Linked DNA regions of Homo sapiens. The protein of the gene in region 1 interacts with the protein of each later gene in a pairwise test. Each region holds a gene or a part of one and is shown in the gene's direction. Other genes may lie near its edges.

Region 1 (7,767 bases):
CGTGTGTGCACCATGTATGTGGGTGCACATACGCCTGTGTATATAGCGAGTCAGTGGGCTTGTGTCTCCTGGGTATTGTGCCAGGCATGTGGGTGAAGGCGCTGGAGTTCCTATGTGGCTTCGCTCAGCACCAGGATTGCAGACGGGTAGGGGCGGGCCTGCTCTGGGAGGAGGAGGGGAGGAATCATGTGCCCACCCACCCCCACATGGACCGGCTGCCCACCCTCCAACGTGGCAGCACGCAGGACAGCCCTTTTTGGATGGAAGGCCCCACGCTCCAAGAGAGAGAATCCAAGATTACAGAAATCGTGTTTTCCTGACTCATGCCTTGGGCTGAGAGCACATTCTTGGCTCCTGGACAGCATCTCAAAGAAGAGCTGCCTATAGCAGCCCTGGCTCCCTGAGGGAGGGGGCCGACCCTGGACTGGCTGTCGGAGCTTTCTGGGCTCCAATTTTATACCAATGTAAAAAGAAGGGGATTAAACTTCCTTCCGATTAACGTTCTATAATTAAAAGTGAGACACTAATGACGGTGCCCAGCACAGGCCTGGCAGCGGCAAAATGGCCCATAAATGTCACTTCCTTCTCGTCCACTCCCTGCCTTCCCGTGGATATGGCATAAACAGACCTGATTCAAAACCCAGCTCTGACTCTGGCTTGTTGTGTGCCCTTAACCCTGTTGCTTAGTCTCCCTGATCCTCAGTTTCTTCATGCTGAAAATTGGAACATTCTTCCTTACCTGAAAGGAATAAATATGATAATAAATGTGAATGTGTTGCACACTTAAATGACATGCAAGTTTTTGTCCTAGGATTCTATGGGGTGAAGACTGAGTGAATCTAGCCACTGGGGCCAAAGAAAGCTGTTTCCACAGCACCTGGCAGAACTGGGCCTACATACCCCCCTGGGTCATTAGAGGGTACTGTGGGAGAAAGAGGGCTGGGAGTCCAGGGCTTAGGCTCCAGCCCAGCCCCACCTCTGATATGCTGTGTGACCTTGGGTAAATTCCTGCCCTCTCTGGGCTTCCGTTGTCCTCTCTGTATAGTGTGGATGCAGTTGGACTTGATGGTTTTCTACTTTCTGCTGTCCACACCTCTCGGGACCTAGGGATCTAGAGGATTTCCAGCCAGCCTCCACGTGCCAGGCACCAGGACCACTTCCTTCAGTGAAGCGAGGCACTGGAGGAGTCCAGAGACAAAATGCTTGAGAGTTTCTCTGCTTATCAGACTCTTCTCCCCCACCCCCTAAAAGAGTGCTTTTTCCGGAAAGCTCTGCCTGGAATGTGGGGGAAGGGCCACAGTCAGTCTGGGCTGGGCTCAGAGCTAAGAATATTGTGGCAAAGGCTCTTGACTTTTTTTTTTTTTGCTGATCTTGGAAATTTAAAGGAGCCGTTGCTTTCCCTTCTTCAGGGAGGCTGTGCTAGGGGCACAGCAGCCTCAGGCAGCCACTTCTCATCCCCTGGCCAGCCATGCTTACCCAGTGCCTCTTCCATACTGTCCCCTTGCTGGAGCTGGGGACTCACAGTGACAAGGAAAAGGCCCTGCCCTTCCAAAGTCTCCAGTGATGGTTCACTGACAATACAGGGTGATAACAGAGATAATGCAGCAGTGGGATAGGTCACAGAGGAGGCTTCTGACCCGGTGTGAGATTAGTGGGGGTCGGATGGGGGTTGGGCCTTCAGACCCAGCCCTCCTTAGGCCTCAGCTTTGCTGTCTGTAAGGGCAGGTCCTCTCTTCAGTGACCACTCATGATACTGGGTCTATTTAACAGCATGAGCTTTGGTTTATCCCTCAAAATGGGACAGTCACAGCACTCTCAGTCTCCCCCTCAGGTGTTGGTGAAGCCTAAAAGAGCTAAGAGATGTAAGAGAGTAGAGGAAGGGAGTCTCACTGGGATTGTGACATCTGAACCTGCTGAAAACCCAGGCGACCCTCTCTGTTTTGCCAGCATTGATGGGCACTCTTTGTTTCTGCTCTGCCCTGCCCTCAGCTCACTGACCAAGTCACAAGGAAGCCTGAGGGCCAATGTGGGGGTGGGAGTAGAGAGTGGGGTCTGGCCTGGGACCCGGGAGGTCTCCTTGGATAAACAAGAATTTATCTTTTTTTTTTGAGATGGAGTCTCGCTCTGTCACCCATGCTGGAGTGCAGTGGCATGATCTCGGCTCACTGCAAACTCCACCTCCCAGGTTCAAGAGATTCTCCCGCCTCAGCCTCCTGAGTAGCTGGGATTACAGGCACATGACACCACAGCTGGCTAATTTTCATATTTTTATTAGAGATGGGGTTTCACCATTTTGGCCACGCTGATCTTGAACTGCTGACCTCAGGTGATCCACCCACCTCGGCCTTCCAAAGTGCTGGGATTACAGGCATGAGCCACCGCGCCCAGCCTAGAATTTATCTTTAAAAGCAATATACAGTTGAGGCAGGAGGAAGCACATGAGAACCACGACAGCCACCCCAAAGAGATGGACACCATGCCAAGGCTGGAAGCTTTTGTTAATAATCAGACCTGTCCTAAAAAAGAATGCGGGGCTGCCTCTGAAGGAGGTAAGCTCTCTCTTCTTAGAGGTGCCTCGGTGCTTGCCTTTTTGGGATACTGAGAAGAGGGCTTCTGCCTGGGGCTGCAGACAGGAACCCCTGACCTCTGAGATGCCTTGCAGCTCAGAGTCTTTAATACATTTATTCCAGAATCCTTCGACTCTGAGATTTTAACATGTTAAGATTCCTTAGCTGGATTCAAAGACTCCTTGGGGGCTTTGAGTGGAAGTAATCTCTGATTCCTTGACCCTGAATCACAGAGTCTGAAGCTTTTGGGATCTGAGATTTCCCACAGTCCTTGTACTCAAAAGACTCTGAGCTGCAGAAGCCTACCCAGACAGAGAGGTTTGTCACCACCACCAGGCTTCCCCACAACCACTAACAGAGGGCAGGGACCCAGGTGATTGACTCATTTGCTGGGTACTGGGATTTTTTTGCTCCCCAGGATCCAGGCAAGCACCTAGAAGAAAGAAGATACTCAATGCATTCATTCATGACTGAATGAATGAAGAGTCCCTACCCTGTCCCTTCCTCTCCATACTGCGTCCATCCAATAGCTATCATTAAACTACTAAAGAGGACTTTTCGGAGGGTAGGGAGCCTCGGCTGATCAGAAATTGAGCCACTGTCGCCCAGATTATTTAGGGTTTCCTAAATAATCTGCCTCACTGAATCACTGAATTCCCTACTAACAGGTACATACCCCACAGATGGACATCGCACAGGGCAAGGACTTTGTTCAGCTCTCAGCTGTGTCCTCAGCACCTAGAACAGTAATGAATACCCTAGCTTAACTTGGAGGTCAAGGAGCTATCAGTTTGCGAGGGTGGGGTAGGAATTGACAGTGAGACCTGAGGCCTGTGGGAGGGGACCCAAAGAGGGAGGGGATGCAATAGGGAGGGGGCCAGGGGTGACAAGGATTGAGGAAGGGAGAGAGGGGGGAAAAAAAGCAAGGGATGCCTTAGAACCACATTTCACAGCCAAGGGAACAGAGGCCCAGAAAGGGAAAGTAACCTGCTTAGGGTCACACAGCACCTTGCTCAGTGGAGAGCCAGGTTTTCCTTCCTGTGCACTCCTCCAAGCCCAGCCAGACCACCTGAAGTTCCCCAGGCATCTCTGCCTCTATTACTCCACGACTTGAACTTTCCGGGTGCCGGGCAGGTACCGGGTCTGGTCTGCTCCCTCTCCCTCTGGCCATCGCTGAGGTTGAGGTTTTTTGAATGTACAAGTATGGAGAAGGGCACTGCCTTCAGAAGCCTGAACGTCTCCCCTGAGAGGGAGGGGGTGCACAGGACTCAATTGTTTCAGCTTGAAAATGGGGGAGAGCGGGGAGAAGGGGAGATGGCTCTGCTTGGGGCAGAGCCCCTGCGGGGAAAGGGGCGCCTGAAAGGACGTGCGATTCGGAGTGGGCTAGCTTATGCAGAGAGCCTGGGGGTGGGAGGAAGCTCGCACTCTGAAGGACACGCTGATCCCCGTGGGGACTCCCGGCGCCCCGCAGCCCGGGCCGCCGAGGGAGGCAGTAGGACCCAGGGGCCGGGAGGCGCCGGCAGAGGGAGGGGCCGGGGGCCGGGGAGGTTTTGAGGGAGGTCTTTGGCTTTTTTTGGCGGAGCTGGGGCGCCCTCCGGAAGCGTTTCCAACTTTCCAGAAGTTTCTCGGGACGGGCAGGAGGGGGTGGGGACTGCCATATATAGATCCCGGGAGCAGGGGAGCGGGCTAAGAGTAGAATCGTGTCGCGGCTCGAGAGCGAGAGTCACGTCCCGGCGCTAGCCCAGCCCGACCCAGGTGAGGGGCGGGAGACGCCTGCGTGCGTGCGGCCCGGGGGAGCGCCGAGCAATCTGGGGGTGCGCGAGGGAGTAAGAGGGGCGAGGGGACCCTGCGAAGCGTTGGGTGCCGAGCCAGAGCCTACAAATTGGAGTCCTCGGCACTTTGGGGGCCGCTGGAGGGTTTGGAATCGAGAGCCCAGGGCTAGCCAGTGATGGTGCCAGCTGAGGGCTAGGGCGGAGATCGGAGCCGGGTTGGGAGTCCGTGCACTCGGAGGACTGGGAAAAAGTGCAGGGACCCCTAAAAGGTGGTGGTGGCAGATACGAGACTAGGTGCTGTGTAAAGGGGGCTGGGGGCAGAGAGCAGAGCCTCTGCGGAAAGAAACAGAGGAGGAAGGAGATGGGTCTGGTGCCTCTTCCCGCAAGGGTAGGGAGGATAGGCCGGCCTCGCAGTTCCAGGTCACTTCCGTTCTGGGGTTGAGGCTCAGGGGCAGCGGTGATTGGTGGCCCAGCCTCCTCACAGGCTTGCTGAGGGAATTTGAGCTTCCGGTGGTGGGAAAGGAGGTGAAATCGTCTCGACTCCTGGGGTCCGTGTGCTCTGGTAGAAGTGGGCGACAGTGGCTCAATTTCTGATCAGCAGCTTGCAGCCTAGATGATGGCAGCCAAAGGAAAGACTTGGCCAGCGAGGCTCCCTACCACTCCGAAAAAAGAGAGTGGGGGTCAGCAGGGTCTGCTCTGCTCTGGGGATTAAGGGGCTGACTAGAAGGATTTGAGTCTTTCCTTCTGTCCACTGCCACAGGGTTCTTGGAGTAACTGCAGGGTTTAAACTGCAGGGTCTAACTTCCAGAGGCTGGGGTTCCCTGCCCCCCAGCTTAGAGACATTCCTGAGGTGGCTGAAGAGCAGGAAGGAGAATGAATGCACTTCCAGACTGGCCCAGAGTCTCAGCCCCTCCTCTTCCTTGTTTCCCGCTGGTCCCTCTGGGCTGTACGGCCCGGATGGAGGCCTGAGGAAAATGAGGGGGCTTTGGTTCTCCGGAATTCCGGCCGGGGCCACACCCTCCTGTCTTCAGATGGTTCATGTACCCATCCCCCCTTCCCGTCCTCTCCTTTGTCTCCTCTGTCACCGGGACTCCCAGCAGAGATTTTTTTTTTGTACTGGCTGTGTAACAGGACACCGCATGCAGCCCTCAGGAGGGGCTCTGTGCTTCTGTGAGGAAGGACCCCTGTGCTGGGAAGGCAGACCCCTGTTTATCCCGAGGGACCTGGGGTGACCCCCTGCCCTGGCCTTGTTTCTCCCATTTTACAGTGAGGTGGTCGATCTCCAAGGTCCCTGTAGATTGGGGACTGGTTGTGCCCTCTGCGCCAGGGGCCTCCTCACCATCTCTCCTTTGCCGGCTCCCGCCCTCTTCACTCTTCTGTTTTCTTTCAGAATGAAAAAGGCAGGCATTGACCTCCCTCTGAGGCAGTTTCCAGGTACTTTAGACCTCTCAAGTGTTTGGGACCCTCTGGTGGGGTCCCATCATCTCCTCCCCTTCCCTTCCAGACCCTGCTCAGTCCAGCTAGCTGTGGGCACAGCCCTGGCTAGGTGATCTTGTATTTTCTTTGTGGGACTGTAACTCAGCTAACCTTGGCCTGAGGGCTGGCATTTCTCTGTGGCAAGATGGGCTGGGCTGTGGGAGGCTGGCCTGCTTGCAGTAACTTGCCTTCCCCCATTCCTGCTGCTGGGTTCAGTGGGGCTGCCCTTCTCCCCAGTAGCGCATTTCCCTTCAGAGATTCATGTGCGGATGGGAAGGGAACTAAGGCCAAGAAGGCTCCTGGAGTCCCCTGGCAAATATGTGGCACCCCCTGGGACCTGAGTCAGGCCTGCTTCCCAGGCTGGAAGCCCCCCTCTGCCGGCCGGTGGAGATAGTTCAGCCTCCTGCCTGCCACGTCACCACCAGGAGCAGGCGCTAAGCTGCTGCGGGCCTAGCGGGCTGCCTGAGGAATCCCAAACCAGTTATTTGGAGCTTGCTTGAGAAGCCCCTCCCAGTCCTTTGAGGTTCTGGCTGGTGGGGGTGGGGGCTGTCAAGATGGTACCTGCCACGTGGCATGGCTGGGAGTGGGCTCTTCAGCTGCCTCCTCAGGGAAGGAAGGCTGTTGGCCTCTGCTGTGGTCTGAGCTCCAGCATCACTGGTCTGGATCAGAGGTGGCTTTTGAGTAGGGTGGCCATATGCCTATTGTCCTGGCATAATAATTAGTAGTGCCCATTTTACTCTTATAAGTGTCCTTGTTTGTGCAATAAATTATATGGTTGCTCTGCCTTTGAGGCTCCAGTTCTGGCAGGGAAGGAGCCAGAGCTGGGAGGGAGGTGTCTTGGGGTTTATTCTAGGCCCCAAGATATCCCCTTCATTTTAGGGTGAGACTCAGATCTCCCCGCTCCTTCCAGACATTTTTAGATCTCTGGGCCTTCCCTCCTCTCCCCACCTCCCTCCCCTTGGACCCTTTGCTTATCTTATACTGCACCTTCAAGGCTCCGAGGAGGGAGGCAGTCCCGGGAGATGGGGAGCCTGTCCAGGTTTTTGGGATGGCAGCAGTAGAATCTTCCCAGAAATACAGTGGTCCCCAGGCAGCCAGAGTCCTGAGGGTCTTCCACCAGGATTTCAAATGTTCGGTCTTCTTCAAGGATGACTACAAGTTGGGATCTACCAGAGCAGTGGGATCGCAGCCTCCACCAGGATTCCTTCTATCCTTCCCTTTGCCCTGTCATCTCTCCTGTGCTGTTGCATGATGTAGAGGAGGATAATGGCCCGAAGGGAGAGAGGGAGTGTGGAAGTATCCCAGGAACAGAGACTGTCCAAATTGGAGGCCCCAGAGAGGGAACTGGGGCTTGTCCTTGGGGCCACTGCTACTGCTGGGGCTTGGGGAGGAGGCCTGAGGGCAACCCTGAAGCCGTGGAGCAGATGGCCTGTGTGGCAGTGGCTGTCAGATTGGAGGGCAGAATGGAATCTGATGTGGCTCCAGCTTCTTTGAAGGCTGAGTGCACATCTGGCCAGCTGCTGGTGATGGGGAAGGGGGTCACTGCTCTATTGAGCTATGTGTGACTCACCCTTTTCCCTAGTATCCTGTCCTTGTGCTATGTCAGGAAGCCTCCTCCCCAGCCCCACCGAGTCTTCAAAGGAGTTGGTCCCCCAGGAGCTTTTGTCCTGGGGATTTCCCATCCGCACTGGGAGCACTGTGGGTAGATGGGCATTCCAAGTTCCTGCCCAGACAGAAGCCATGGGCATGGAGACCTGGACCTTTCAGCTTGGAAAAGGGAGACTGAGGCTGAGTGGACACAGGACACACACACACACACTCTCAGGGTCACCCTTGGGGCAGCAAAGTGGAGCATCTTGGCTCCCCATTTAATGAGTGACCCAACTGGTGACTCATTAACATCCCAGAGCAGAATGAAAGGCATGGGGGCGGGGCAGCCCTCCGGCTCTGTC
Region 2 (7,512 bases), on another chromosome or scaffold:
TTTCTATGCCGAGTCTCTAGGAGATGACAGGAAGGTTGGAGAGAAATGAAATAATGCAACGTGATGGAATCAACCATCTGTAGAAGTAACAGATGCTAACTGGTAATCTGCACCTAGATGGTTAGGGAAGAATATAATCAGTTATAGGGGTGCCTGCTAAAATCATAACCTGGTCTGTGGCATTAATGCCAAAAATTGTAATCTGATTGATTGAACTGATAGGGATGAGCATGAAGCTGTAATCTTGCCAGTTGTTAACACCATTGTTGAAAGAAGAATGTTTCAAGGATGAGATCTGCTAAGAGCCTAGAAAAAGGCAAATGAAGAGCAGGTAGGACTCTTTCTTAATCTGGTACCATCCAGAGGAGAAGGCTACCAACAGGCCAAAGAGATTATTCTGGTGCCTTGAGAGATCAAGTAATTTATGAGGCAGGGATATTTCATGTGACTCTCCCAGAGATTAGTTGAAATCCACAAAATCATCTCATCTTTTTTTGTTCTTACAGTCCCTCTGCCATGCAACCTCCTTGACATTCATAGTCTTGTCCCTGGAAAGATCTATCCCCCATTATAAATGAGGAGATAGCAAATTTTGATCAGGCTCCTAAGTTTGGTTAGAGTGACTCAGCAGCCCAAAGCCCAGTCAGCTGTTGGCACGCTGATAAAATGGGTGTGTGAGGACCAGCAGCTGCTACTTACTCAATGACTTTCTCTTTGGGTGTCGACTGGCCTCCCAGCAGACATTGCTTTGCCTCTGCAGAACACTCCCACTCAAATTCCCTGATCATATTAGGATGAAATTAGCAGTTTCTTGGTTCAAATTTATGATAAAAGCACACCCATTTAATGATTATTAAAACCTGATATTCATCTATTTTTTTTTAACCTCCAACTACTTCAAAGTAATGTGCAGCTAAGATCTGATCTCCTAAGAGAAAGGTGGGGAGCAGAAATGTCTTAGAATGAAGTAAATTACATAGCCCAGTGCAGGATGGTTGAAGCTTTATCAGAACCACACACTCTTTATTATTCCAAACTTAAGCTGGGATCCATACTCATTATTAAAGTTAGACCTATTCAGAATGTTGCAGAGTACAGAGAAGTGAGCTTAGGGTGATCATTTATTTTCTCTAATATTCAAACCTCAACTCAAAACCTTTAGGATTAAAGGCCTGCCACTGTAAGCCACCCTACTCTCATAGAAAGTGTATAATTATTTAGAAGACACTATATCCTCCAAATGTACATGCTTTCCAAGAGCTGTGTGTCCACACTAGCCTTTTGTCTCTTAACTATAGAAAGCTGAAACTTCAAGGGTTTTGTAATAGGTGCTGCTGCCATGTACATACAGACCTCTAGCCTGTGCTGCTCCGGAGAACGTTCTGCAGTGACGGAAATGTCCTTTATCTGTGCTGGTCAGTGCAGTAGCCACTAGCTACACGTGGCCACTGAGCACTAGAAACAGGGCAGCTGTGACCTAGGAACTGGATGGTTAATTTTAGTTAATTTAAATGTAAATAACCATATGTGGCTAGTGGCTACCGTATTGGACAGTACAGTTCCGGGCAATTTGACTGAAAATTATACCTCCTTTAATTTATTTCTGTTTTCTAACAGGTTCAGAAATCGTTTTGACAGCACATAATTCTTAAATAGAGTACATGCAAATTTGGTCTTTCTTGCATGTCCGAGAACACTTGCCTAAGAAAGATGTGTGATTTTTCTTTAAACCTGGAAATTTTAAGCAGCTTATGCTATCATCTCATAGTAACAATCTAGTGAAGTAATTGTTATATCATAATACCGGCTAGTGTTGCCAGAATAAGCAGGTGAATGTGACCAAGAGGTACTTTTATAAGGGTTTTCAGGGCAAATAGGCAAAGGCAGCCACTCTTATATCAAATGTTGTCATATGGAAGGGAGTACAATTAGGTAACTCGGAATCCTAATTTCAGGGAGTGTAAAAAGAAGAAAACCTTAATTAGGTTAGAGGTTGAAAGCTTAGTCATTAACCTCTTCCTGTTCTTGTTTCAGTCCCAACAGACATTTAAAATTGTTAAGCTTCTTTTTAGAAATGAGTTTTACTAACTTAAGCTTGACCTCGCTGCTGCTGTCTTGTATTTTTGCTCTTAGTGTCCAGTGATGCTGTACTTCCAACTGATAACCTATTGGGATATCATATGCTGAATTATGTTTTCTCAGGCCAGAGGGCAAATTTATATGTTGTTATGGTTTGCAATTCAAGTGTCCAAAACATCGGTTGTTTGGGTTTTTTTTTTTTTCTCCTTGTGATTTAATTTCAGGAAAAGGAGAAGGAATGGCAACGAAGAAGACAACCATCTTCCCCCCCAGACCAAAAGAAGTAGCAGAAACCCTGTCTTTCAGGATTCCTGGGACACAGAGGTAGGAAGTGTGGTCACATAGTCTGTTGTTTTCACTGCTTGAGTTAAATAACCTAGTATCTGCTGTGTAATTAAATTTACTTAAACAGTAATTTAAAATGACCTTAGTTGATTATACTGGTTTAACCTTTCTGTTTCCAAATCAGGGTCCCTTTGAGGAAGCTGTGTACCCTGTCCCCAGCAAAACAGTACATATGTGCACATAGTCATATATGTACACACTCATTTGTATTTGTTAGAAATTTCGTGGCTTTTTGAAAGCCTATGTTTGAACTCACTGTTTTGTATTTCAGCAGCGAACTTCTTTTCTGGTAGTTTATAAACCATGAATTGTCCTTAAGATAAACATATTTTGTTGCTTCAATTCAAATGCCTTTTAAGAGAAACTTTAAGCATGTAAAATATGTAAGGTATGTGTATGCAGAATCCCATTTCTCAGTGTTTTTACTTTTCATTATCTTGTTGTGAAAAGAGCTCCTGTGGTGAGAGGGAAGGGGAGTTGGGTGTTCTGGAACTTTTTTACAATTTTTGATTTCATGAAAGAGTGCTTCAGTACGCAGACTGAGGATACATTTTCTGTGCAATTGGAAGGCTGCTCTGTGCTGGGGAAAGGAAACCAATATAAAGTAATGCTGCTATTAAGTTATGCACCTAGAGATTTTGACCCTTAACAGTTGTCACACTAAGAGAAAAGCCTCAACAACAAAGAGCCCTAGCCTCATAACTCACAGTAGAATTCTCCCACACCCAAATAATTTGTACTTTAATTAGTTCCTGATAATAGGATTTGACCTATATCCAGTCTGTCTTTGCCAGCAATTCAAAGTAACTCCCCCAAGGGGGAAAAATCAGGAACTTTCATGTAGGTAACAGTCATTCAGAGACAGTGAACAAGTGCAGAGTAGAATCCTTCTGTGTGGAGACCTGAGTTTCTATAGCTGTTTTTCCTCTTCAAATATTTTCCTGGCCGAGCGCAGTGGCTCATCCCTATAATCCCAGCCCTTTGGTAGGCCAAGGTGGGCAGATCACGAGGTCAGGAGTTCGAGACCAGCCTGGCCAACATGGTGAAACCCCATCTCTACTAAAAATACAAAAAATTAGCTGGGTGTGGTGGTGCACGCCTGTAATCCCAGCTACTTGGGAGGCTGAGGTGGGAGAATGGCTTGAACCCAGGAGGCAGAGGTTGCAGTGAGCTGAGATCGTGCCGTTTTACTCCAGCCTGGGCAACAGAGCAAGACTCCGTTTCAGAAAAAAAAAAAAAAAAAATATATATATATATATATTATATATATATATATTTTTTTCCTATTTGCTTTTTTCTTTTCTTTTTAAAAAATGATTATCAGAAAGGTAATTGAGCTTTGTTTAATGTAATAGTTGGGAATCTCAGGGATGAAAGAAAACAAGATTAGAGGCTACCATGAATATCTAATGATAAAACCCTGTAATAGTAATTGAGTTTCCATTCTTTTGAATTGTAAGACTATTCATTAAAAGAGTATGCAAAGATTACTTCTATGGTGTTGGCCATCAGTATTTCCTTACTTGTGTCTGTATGTAAGTCCTGCTATATGATGTTCATTTCAGTCAAGGGTATGGTAGGTCTAACTCTCTGTATTAACGTTTTTTTCCCGTATCTGCCAGTTTTGAAGCCTGAGAACAGCAATAGAAATTGCCATCTTTTTCTTGCTTTTGTCTCTTGGTTAAAAAAAAAGAAAGAAATTGTCATCCTTTTTTAAAAAAATTAACATTTCTGATCTCTTAAGTAAGGCAGATATTGTAGATTTTTAAATTTTATTTATTTATTTATTTAGTTTTTGGTACAAAATGACCTTTACTCTCTTTCTAAAATCCGTGCATTGGTCTCACAGAAGAAAACAACGTCTTGTTACTCAACCTCCTGGGTTCTCTAGCTGAGCTTGTCCTTACTTGTCCAAAGAAATTCAGTTGTTGAGCCACTCCGTAATCATTATCTGAAGGAAGGACTAGATTGTCTTCCTTATCGTTTAAGGTCATTACTGGTAGTTTCTGTCTGAACTCACTGGTAGATCACCTAATGGGGTGTTACAACCATTAGTTTCAGCCTTGCTTACTGAACATTGACCAGAATAGCCTGCTGTGCCGTCCTGTGCTGTCCTGTCCTGTCCTATCCTATGCTGTCCTGTCCTGTCCTGTGCTGTGCTGTGCTGTGCTGTGCTGTGCTGTCCTGTCCTGTGCTGTGCTGTGCTGTGCTGTCCTGTCCTGTCCTGTCCTGTCCTGTCCTGTCCTGTCCTGTCCTGTGCTGTGCTGTCCTGTCCTGTGCTGTCCTGTCCTGTCCTGTCCTGTGCTGTGCTGTGCTGTGCTGCGCTGTGCTTCCTGGCAGTGGTATTAACAAGTAACAAGGACAAGTGAATGATGAGAGAGCCAGAGAAGCAAAAGGCAGAGGGAATATCTTTTAAAATGGAAAGTTAAGCCCCAAATAATGAAGTTTTCACTACTGGAATAAATGATTATGTTTGTAGCAGCAAAAAATCAAGTTTAGGGACATTTGGCTGGTTTTTGATGATTGTGTATAAAAGGGAAAATAAAACAATTCATTTTTAATTATATTAACAATTTAGACAAAATATTTTATTAATAACATTACTAATGAAAATGTTTTCTTTTAATTCTGAGGTAGGGCCATGAGGTCAGTTTCCTTGAAACTTAAGTTATGTAAGAGAAACCATTTCCTATGTTTTCCCTGAATGAATAAGCTTTGTCACCCAGACTGGAGTGCAGTGGTGTGATCTCAGCTCACTGCAACCTCTACCTCCCAGGCTCAAGCAATACTCCTACATCAGCCTCCCAAGTAGCTGGAACTACAGGCACATGCTACCATGCTGGGTTAATTTTTTAAGGTTTTTTTTTTTTTTTTTTTTTTGGAGAGACGACGTCTCACTATATGGCCCAGGCTGGTCGTGAACTCTTGGGCTCAAGCGATCCTCCCACCTCAGCCTCCCCAAAATGCTGGGATTACAGACTTGAGCCACCATGCCTGGCTAGAATTCCCTTCCTTCCTTCCCTCTGTTCTCCCCTCCCCTTCTCTCCCCTACCTTCTCATCCCCTCCCCTCCACTTTCTTCTCTTCCCCTCCTTCCTCTCTTCCTTTCTCCCTCCCTCCCTTCTTCCCTCCCTCCTTTCCTTCCTCCCTTTCTTTCTTTTCTTTCTGGCAGGGGCTCCCTCTGTTGCCCAAGCTGAGTGCAGTGGAATGATCATGGTTCACTGTAGCCTCAACCTCCTGGGCTCAAATGATCCTTCCTCTTCAGCCTCCTGAGGTGCTGGGACTACAGGGATGTGCCACCAAACCTGGCTAATTTTTTTAATTTTTTGTAGAGACAGGGTCTTGCTGTGTTGCCCAGGCTGGTCTTGAACTCCTGGCCTCTGACCCTCCTCCACTGGGCCTGGCCAAATTCTTTTTCTTATTTTCTTTTTTTTGTTAACCTGGCTGTTTAAGAATTCTTTTTCTTATAACTTGAACTTCATGAGGAATTTTTTTTTTAATTCTAAGAGAGATTTAAAAGTTACTTACAATTCATTTCTAAAAGTTAACCTTTTTGCTTAAGTACAATAATAATGGCGAGTACTAGGAAATATGTGAGGTGTTTTATTTATGTTAAACCATTAAATTGTGCCACAAGTAAATCACAACTATCTGTACAGTGGAGATAATAGTATCTGCCTCTTCTTTCCTAGATACTATAAAGCTAAATAATGTGAACTGATTTGCCGGATTAGTTATATAGAGAGAAACTTCATGTGTGCATAAATTAATGTGTGCATAAATGGCTTCTTTCCCCCATTTTATTTTTTTATTGTTTATTGTTTTTTGAGAGGGAGTTTCACTCTTGTTGCCCAGACTGGAGTGCAATGGCGCAATCTCGGCTTGCCATAACCTCTGCCTCCTGGATTCAAGCGATTATCCTGCCTCAGCCTCCCGAGTAGCTGGGATTACAGGCATGTGCCACCACACCCTGCTAATTTTGTATTTTTAGTAAAGGCAAGGTTTCTCCATGTTGGTCAGGCTGGTCTTGAATTCCTGACCTCAGGTGATCTACCTGCCTTGGCCTCCCAAAGTGCTGGGATTCCAGGCGTGAGCTACCGTGCCCAGCCTGTTTTAGTAGGTATTATTATCTCCACTTCTCAGATGGAAAACTTGGCACACAGAAAAATAGTCACTTGTCCAAAGAACACAGCTAGTAAGAGGCAGAGGAGGAACGGAGCCCCAGGGTGTGGTTGTTGGGCTGCACGCTCCTGACCATGGTGTGTGCTCTCCCAGAAGATAGAACAGAGGTTCTGCGAGACTTTGCTAAATATATCCAGGAGCAGCTAGAGCCTAGTCTTCTCTTTTTTTTTCTTTTTTTTTTTTTTTGAGACAGAGTTTCGCTCTGTCACCTAGGCTGGAGTGCAGTGGCATGATCTCAGCTCACTGCAACCTCCACCTCCCAGGTTCAAGTGATTCTCCTGCCTCAGCCTCCTGAGTAGCTGGGATTACAGGCACCCGCCAGCTCGCCCAGCAAATTTTTGTATTTTTAGTAGAAATGGGTTTCACGATGTTGGCCAGGCTGGTCTCAAACTCCTGACCTTAGGTGATCCATCCGCCTTGGCCTTCCAAAGTGCTGGGATTATAGGCGTGAGCCACCGCGCCCAGCCCTAGTTTTGTTTTGAGTCAGGAACAGAGAAGAACAATTTTCCTTCTCTTTTTATCTAGAAGCTGTTTTTTCCAAGTACATGGCATGATATGATCTTAGCTATAAAGCAATTTTAGATTTCTAGCAAGAAAAAAAACAAAAATGTGGTCTTGTGTTTTTTTTTTCCAAATCTCTGATTAGTGCTTGAATTGAAGACTTTGAATTTTAACTCCAGTAACTTGGACTTAATGACTTATGAGCCTTAGAATACTATTTTTTTAAGTTGAAGTATTTACTAATTTAATTTTTTTTTTTTTTTTGAGACAGGGTCTTGCTCAGTTGCCTAGGCAGGAGTGCCGTGGTGCTGTCATGGCTTACTGCAGCTGTGAACTCATGGGCTTAAGCACTCCTCCCTGCTCAGCCTCCCAAACTACAGGTGTGCGCCACTACACCTGGCTAGTT
Region 3 (7,980 bases), on another chromosome or scaffold:
TAAGTGTCCCTCAGAGTTCTCACTGAGATTGACTTTTCTCCTTACTTTGAAGTCCTAGATAATATATACTCTGTCTTCAACTGTTATCAAGACATGCTAAAGATTCCCAAATTTCTTTCTCCAGCCCACCCTTTCTGAACTGCAGATGAGGCCAACTGCCTCCTGGACATCATCTTGCTGTCCCATGGCATCGCAAAGTTAAGAAACCTTAAACTTAACCCATGATCTTGGCCATCAGATCTGTGACTCTATGTATATTCCTTCTTTGTTGAACTGCACCTTGTCTCCCAAACTCCAAATTCAGAATTCCCTTTTGCCGTTCTCTCTCTCATAATCTTCATGGACAATCAATGACCAAGCTCTATTCATTCTACCTCAGTTTTTTTTCGATAATCAAAATGAAAATACAACCACATTAGAATATTTATGAGAATCCCATTATCTGGATGAGTGTGTCAAAACCAAATGCTTACAGAAATTTCATGGCCTGTGTTTCCATTTGTGTTTATAACAGTATTTGGGGCCAGACTATTAAAATACTCAGATTCTTTTACTGGCTAAATGAAAGACAAATGATGTCAACACATGAAATATTAACCAAATAGAGAGGGGTGCTGGGCTAAATGAACCATCATATGTCATCCAGTAAAATAGGCCGGCTATGTAAAAAAGAACGTGCACATGGCCAGGTGCGGTGGCTCACGCCTGTAATCCCAGCACTTTGGTAGGCCAACACTGGTGGATCACGAGGTCAGGAGATCGAGACCATCCTGGCTCACATGGTGAAACCCCATCTCTACTAAAAATACAAAAACAAAATTAGCCAGGCGTGGTGGTGGGTGCCTGTAGTCCCAGCTACTCGGGAGGCTGAGGCGGGAGAATGGCGTGAACCCGAGAGGTGGAGCTTGCAGTGAGCTGAGATTGCGCCACTGCACTCCAGCCTGGGTGACAGAGCGAGACTCTGTCTCAAAAAAAAAAAAAAAAAGAACCTGCACATAACCAGTGAACTTCATCTTCCCATTTCAAGAAGTAATTTAATTTCAGCTAAATGTTATTTGTTGTATTTAAGTGATATTAATGGTGATGTATTGTTTTCTACTTTTCTTTCTAGTCATTTTATCTATAAATTTTTTTATTTTACAGTTGTATGAGCTGTCAGCCTAAGGAGCATATATCTAGTTTTATGCATATTTATAGCAATATTTTAATGTCAATCCTAGGGATCTGAAAAATAATTTTTTTAAGAGATAGGATCTCGCTTGGTTGCCCCAGTTAGAGTGCAGTGGTGCAATTATAGCTCACTGGAGCCTGCAGCCTCGAATTCTTGGGCTCAAGTGATCCTCCCACTTAAGCCTCCCAGGTAGGTAGAACTATAGGCGCAAGCTTGCCTGTCTAATTTTTGTTTGTTTGTTTGTTTGTTTGTTTTGTATAAAGAGGGTCTCCCTATGTTGCCCAGGCTGGTTGCAAACTCCTAGCCTCAAGCAATCCTCCTGCCTTGGCCTCCCGAAGTGCTGAGATCACAGACTTGAGCCACTGCACCCAGCCAGATTTTTCAGTGGAAAATCAACTCCTCCATTACTGGCTTAGGAAACACTGTTTTAGATGCTGAGACTCCAATAACTGCCACCTTTACTAGTACATTGGCTTAAAGCCAAATTTGCAGCCATCTCTAGCAAGTGTTTAGGATTTGATATAACATGTTTGATGATTGAATTTGCCTTGGTTCTATATAACATCCTATAGCTATTCATTTTTTAACCTTATTTTTCTCAATTATAGTCAATGTTTTTATTGTGCTATATTTGATGTGTTTTTATGGCTGCCCTACATTATTTTGGGAACAAGAAAGGATATGAATGCTTACTTTCGGTAGGGAGAAAGGGGTAATAAGCAATGTGAACCTGATATAATATAAAGTAATTACAGTCTCAGGTGTCTTAGGGCATCAGATTCAAGATGAAAATTAAGAGTGGAGAAAAGAAAGGGAGATCAGATTGTTACTGTGTCTATGTAGAAATGGAAGACATAAGAAAGTCCATTGTGATCTGTACTAAGAACAATTATTCTGCTTTGAGATGCTGTTAATCTGTAACTTTAGCCCCAACCCTGTGCTCACAGAAACATGTGCTGTATTGAATCAAGGTTTAATGGATTTGGGGCTGTGCAGGATGTGCCTTATTAACAGTATGTTTGCAGGCAGTATGCCTAGTAAAAGTCATCACCATTCTCCATTCTCTGTTAACCAGGGACACAATGCACTGTGGAAAGCCGCAGGGACCTCTGCCCAAGAAAGCCTGGGTATTGTCCAAGCTTTCCCGCAACTGAGACAGCCTGAGATATGGCCTTGTGGGAAAGGAAAGGCCTTACATCCCCCAGCCTGACACCCGTGAAGGGTCTGTGCTGAGGAGGAGTAGTGAAAGAGGGAGGCCTCTTTGCAGTTAAGAGGAAGGTTTCTGTCTCCTGCTCGTCCCTGGGAATGGAATGTCTCAGTGTAAAGCTGACCATTCGTTCTATTCTGAGATAGGAGAAAACCGCCCTGTGGCTGGAGGCGAGATATGCTGGCAGCAATACTGCTCTGTTACTCTTTGCTACACTGAGATGTTTGTGTAAAGTGAAACATAAATCTAGCCTATGTGTACATCCAGGCGTAGTACCTTTCCTTGAACTTATTCATGATACAGATTCCTTTGCTCACATGTTTCCTGCTGACCTTCTCCCCACCATCACCCTGTTGCCCTGCCACACTCCCCTCGCCAAGATAGTAAAAATAGTGATCAATAAATACTGAGGGAACTCAGAGACCAGCGCTGGTGCGGGTCCTTGCACATTGAGCGCCAGTCTCCTGGGCCCACTGTTCTTTCTATATACTTTGTCTCTGTGTCTTATTTCTTTTCTCAGTCTCTCGGCTCCACCTGATGAGAAATACCCACAGGTGTGGAGGGTCAGACCCCCTTCAAAAAGCTCATATACCTCTCTAAACAGTTCTACAGGAATAAATGGAGGTGGCTGCCAATATCCCTTAAGCCACCTCAAAAACCAAGTTGACAAGGTGTATGCTTTTTTCTTTTCTCTCGGGAAAAATACCAGTGCCCTCTGGTGTCCAAAGTGCACCTTGAGTAGTACCACGTAGATCAGTTTATCTTCAAAGAATAATGTACTAATTCAATGTTAGAGATAATTTTTTAAAATAAATTTTGGAGGCTGGGCACGGTGGCTCACGCCTGTAATTCCAGCACTTTGGGAGGCCGAGGCAGGCGGATCACTTGAGGTCAGGAGTTCGAGACCAACCTGGCCAACATGGTGCAACACCGTCTCTACTAAATACAAAAATTAGCTTAGCATGGTGGCACACCTGTAGTCCCAGTTACTTGGGAAGCTGAAAGAGGAGAATCACTTGAACCCAGGAGGCGGAAGTTGCAGTGAGCCGAGACTGCACCAGCCTGTCAGGGCAAGACTCTGTCTCATAAATAAATAAATAAATAAATAAATATTGGAGCATTAAATTCTGGGCAGCAATATACAAGCATGCTATTGTCCTACAAATCACAATATAAAATACTCTTTATTTTCATGTTTTTGAGAGCAATGAACACACAAAATATAATCTCTGGAGGAGACTAAAATTCTTTTTTCAATCCACCGTTTTCTAAGGCTTCACATCTCTAGTCCAACTTCATTGGATCACAGATAATCCCCCGCCAACTGAGCATGGTGGCTCACGCTTGTAATCCCAGGACTTTGGGAGGCCGAGGAGGGCCAATCACTTGAGTCCAGGAGTTCGAGACCAGCCTGGGCTGCTGAAACCCATCTCTACCAAAGGAAAAAGAAAAGAAAAGAAAGAAAGAAAAATTAGTTGAGTGTGATTGTGTGCACCTGTAATCCCAGCTACTCGGAAGGCTGAGGTGGGAGGATCTCTTGAGCCCAGGAAGTCAAGGCTGCAGTGAGCGGTGATCGCTCCACTGCACTCCAGCCAGGGCAACAGAGCAAGGCCCTGTCTTAAAAAAGAAAATAATAAGAATCCCATTCATTATCTTCTAATGCAAACAATCAATGGAGTTTCTAAAGACCTAGACATAGGTGGTGTCAGGACCTGCTTCTGTAACTTTTCCATCCTTTGCATTAGGCAGCGCGGAACCCCCTAGGCGACCCCGCGCTGGCCGGGAGCACTCTTTCTTCAGCCAAAGGTACGTTCCATTACCGCCCCTCGGGGGCGCGCTAGGCAGCGGGCCGGCCAAGCTGCCGCCGCCCAGGGCGCCCTGTCCCGTTCGCTTTTGTGCCGACCTGGAAACACTCTGTGGTGCTCTAGATTGTTACAAAGTTCGGGGTGGTGCAGCCCCAGCGCGCCCCGCTCCCCGGCCTGCAGGTGGCATACAAGTCTCTTCGCTGTCGGGATTCGGGACTGAATCTCTGCCGGGCGGCAACCCCTTCCCCCACCGGGATCACCGGGAAAGTGGCACCATGGATTCTCCATCTTTGACTGTGGCCACGCCCCTCTCGCTGACTCCGCCCATCCCACGGGAATTGGCGTGTGGCGATTGGAGGCGTGTCGGGGGCGGGGCTGGGGGAGGTGGGCTGAGGAGGCGGGGCCTGGGAGGGGACAAAGCCGGGAAGAGGAAAAGCTCGGACCTACCCTGTGGTCCCGGGTTTCTGCAGAGTCTACTTCAGAAGCGGAGGCACTGGGAGTCCGGTTTGGGATTGCCAGGCTGTGGTTGTGAGTCTGAGCTTGTGAGCGGCTGTGGCGCCCCAACTCTTCGCCAGCATATCATCCCGGCAGGTAACCTCAGGCTCCAAGGGGCGGCCCCGGTCCCTGGCTGTGGAGGGGTGGCTCTAATTCCGCAGAAGGCAGGAATGGGGTAAAGGAAAAAAGCGCAGATCTTGGGTGTGGAGGGAGTCAAGGCCTGCGTGCAAAGAAGGGAACAAATCCAGGTATTGAGAATGGGAAAAGAAAAGGGAAGGAGGGGATGCTGGATGCTTGGATATGCAGAAGGTCTGCTTTTGGGCCTGGGAGGGAGAAACTGGGCGGTGAGGAAGTTGGATGCAACGACAAGGGGAAAATCAGGTCTGCACTTGGGTTGGAAAATCGAGGGGTGGAAGTTGCAAGAATGCATGTAGAAGACTAAGCCTGGAGTGTAGGAGGAAGAAAACGTGCAGCAGCTGGGGGCTGGATGCAAAGAAGGCTGTAAGCCGCAGACGGGCGTCTGCAGGCAACTCAGGCGGCGAGGAATAGCCTTGAAGCCGATCCCTCGCGTCCGCCAGGGGGCGTGGAGGGGCGGAGCTCCAGCGGCCTTCAGAGGGGTCGCTAGGCCACACGGGGCGAGAGGGGGCTGGGGGAAACACCCCCGCCAGTTCCGGGTGCCTGGAGTTTAAAAGGTCCCAGCACCAGCGAGGGGAGGGGAGGGGAGGGGCGGGCGTGGAGACCTGGAAGGAGGTACCGATCCAGCCTTGATTGCAGCCCTCTTGCACAACGGCCATAAGGACGGGTGCAGGCCAAGAGCAAGGACATGCAAACCCCAAGACCTGCTAACGGGCGGCGAAGCGGGGGCACGCCCTCGCACACGCAGAGATAAATTGTGCTCCCATGACCTTTATTTGGAAAGTGCCTGCGGGCCTAAAATTGGCCTTTGTCCCACCGAGTACACTCAGCACTGTACTTTAAACCGGATAAACTGGGCTGTCTGGCAGGTACTAAAAACAGCTAAATTCTCCTGTGAGTGTTCTGTATGTTAACACTTTTATTCCTTGTTTTGTTTTAGGCGATAAACTACATTCAGTTGAGTCTGCAAGACTGGGAGGAACTGGGGTGATAAGAAATCTATTCACTGTCAAGGTGAGAATTAGCAAATTTTCCCCCTTCTTCTGTACTTTCTTTGATGTGGCAGTACAGTGTTTAACTGGTCTTGGGGGCAGGCCGAGGCACTGCAAGGGAATGAGTGAGGAATATTTCCAACAACGAATTCCAACAGCTTCCTTGTTTCTTTTAATACAGTGTCTTATCTGCAAGAGATCCTTTTTGCCCAGAAATTATTGTAGTTCATGAACTCGGCAAAAAACAATCTGGCCAAAAACTTGAGGTTGATGAAAATAATATTAAATGGCTCTTTTTTTTCATTAAACTACTCTGTATTGTTATTCCAGGTTTATTTTCTGGAATTGCACAATTATGTTAGGAGATAGGATTCAGCTACTTCATATGAGCTGGTGCCTGCTGGTCTTGGAACAGCCCTTCCTTCTGAAGTTGGGATTGGGTTGGAGACAAAATCTGAGGGGCAACAAAGGTGGAGAAGTCAGTCCAGTGGGGCCTCAAGCCCATCCCATGGAAATCAGATCCAGAAGAAATACAATTATGTTCCACATGGTAGTAACAATAAAGCTTCACTGTTTTAGTTAAAAGATGGTAAAAATTTCATGGCTAAGTAATGTGAGGAAAACCTGAAGCGTCTGAAGTATGCATTATGAGATAAAGAAAGATTACTGCAGAGAGTACAGTTGCTTTAACTGAGAAGGAAATAGTGAACTAAAAAGATATCAGTCTTCACATTTTAGGTACAATATTTGACCTCTATTAACTGTATTTGCCATCAAGAATAAATTGCCATGTCATGACTGTTGCATCATACTATATAGGGACATGGCCATGGAAGTGTATTATCAGGAACCAGATAAGTTCACTGCCTCCTTTTTTGCTTTGTTTTAAAACAAGGATAGGTGTGACAGTGGAATCAAACATGAACTGAATCATATGCTTTCAGCTGTACTACAAATTATACTTGACATTACAAATGGGAAGTAATTGACTCATCCACACCATTCTGTTCATTTCTTTTAGTCTAGTTCAGTTCCAGAAGGTTCCCCCAAAGGAATCTCCTAAACACTAGTAAGAAGAATTCTAGAATTGCGAATTTGGGAAGTGAAAATGGGCCTGGGGATTGGAAATACATCCAGGCTTGTCAAGAAACAGACGCTTACTGTCTACTAATCATTACATTTTTATTTAAAGACCAAATTACTTTAGCTCAATTTTTCAAGAAAGACTATTTTAGGCTTCTTATCTAATAATTCTTTAAAGTCAATTCTCTTGACTTTTTTAGTCCTTAAGAGAATAAAAGCAATTTGCAGCTGTGTTGTTGGATTAAAAAAGAGTTTCGATTAGAGCATCATTAGAAGGAATAGATAACTTTTAGCAGGCTCAGAGCTTCTTCTGCCTCTAGGGACAAGCTGGGACAGTTTCATTTCTTCCAAAGCGTCCAACCTTGCACTTTCTGAGAATCAGATTGATTTGTATATGCTACCCCCACACCCTATCCTTAAAGTGCTGTCTTCCTAGGACAATGCACAGTTTGTCCTATCCCACTCACTAGCAGCTTACCCTTGCCTGTGAACAGCCAGAAGAAGATGACAGGGACATGCTTGGGTCCTGGGCAGTGGCCCTACTGTATAGAGATTCTTCTAATTGAGAAATCACTTTGTTGTATTTAGCCCCACATCTCCAATGTCTGTGTTATCTCTAGGAAAACAGTTCCACCAGGAATTCTTCGTCTCGCTTTTAGACTTAAAGTTTCCCTGAATATGGGTCACAGGAACCAGCTGAATCTCCTCATGGCTAGTTATTTTTATTAAATAACAAAAACAGCCTCTTAAAGGAGGAGAAATGCTAGCACTCACCATTCTGGACATCTTGAGAGCCCAGTAAAATGATGAGTTGGACTGAAGTGTTCAATAAACATGAGATTGTGGAAATAATCTCATTTCTTAAGACAAACCAGTAGTTGAGAATAATGATTGCATTATGAAGGGCACGTTATAGGGTCAGGCTCTGCCACGCTCTAGCTAGGTGGCCTTGGGAAAGCTCTTTTTTTTTTAACAAAGTAAAATGGGGAAATGATGGCCATTTTTTTGGATTGTTATGAGGGCTAGCTCAGAAACCGCGTGTGAAACATAACACAATACTTTGTTCAGAGAAGATACTCAATTCTAATGGTA

What was found. The genes of interacting proteins can lie anywhere in the genome.
Region 2: the proteins of SERPINH1 (region 1) and VCF1 interact in binary tests that used the Homo sapiens proteins (3 or more experiments, as listed by UniProt).
Region 3: the proteins of SERPINH1 (region 1) and IDH1 interact in binary tests that used the Homo sapiens proteins (3 or more experiments, as listed by UniProt).

Annotation. Positions count from the first base shown.
Region 1 is NC_000011.10:75,557,998-75,565,764, forward strand, and holds the start of SERPINH1 (serpin H1 isoform 1 precursor), read left to right. Parts: upstream 1-4,255; 5' UTR 4,256-4,322; exon of another isoform or gene 4,323-4,381; intron 4,382-4,475; exon of another isoform or gene 4,476-5,019; intron 5,020-5,729; exon of another isoform or gene 5,730-5,773; intron 5,774-7,767.
Region 2 is NC_000017.11:73,222,056-73,229,567, reverse strand, and holds part of VCF1 (protein VCF1), read left to right. Parts: exon of another isoform or gene 1-320; coding exon of another isoform or gene 321-331; intron 332-1,854; exon of another isoform or gene 1,855-1,912; coding exon of another isoform or gene 1,913-1,932; intron 1,933-2,303; coding exon 2,304-2,403; intron 2,404-7,512.
Region 3 is NC_000002.12:208,251,733-208,259,712, reverse strand, and holds the start of IDH1 (isocitrate dehydrogenase [NADP] cytoplasmic), read left to right. Parts: upstream 1-4,641; 5' UTR 4,642-4,774; intron 4,775-5,254; exon of another isoform or gene 5,255-5,370; intron 5,371-5,409; exon of another isoform or gene 5,410-5,682; intron 5,683-5,753; 5' UTR 5,754-5,827; intron 5,828-7,980. UniProt on the Homo sapiens protein: Catalyzes the NADP(+)-dependent oxidative decarboxylation of isocitrate (D-threo-isocitrate) to 2-ketoglutarate (2-oxoglutarate), which is required by other enzymes such as the phytanoyl-CoA dioxygenase.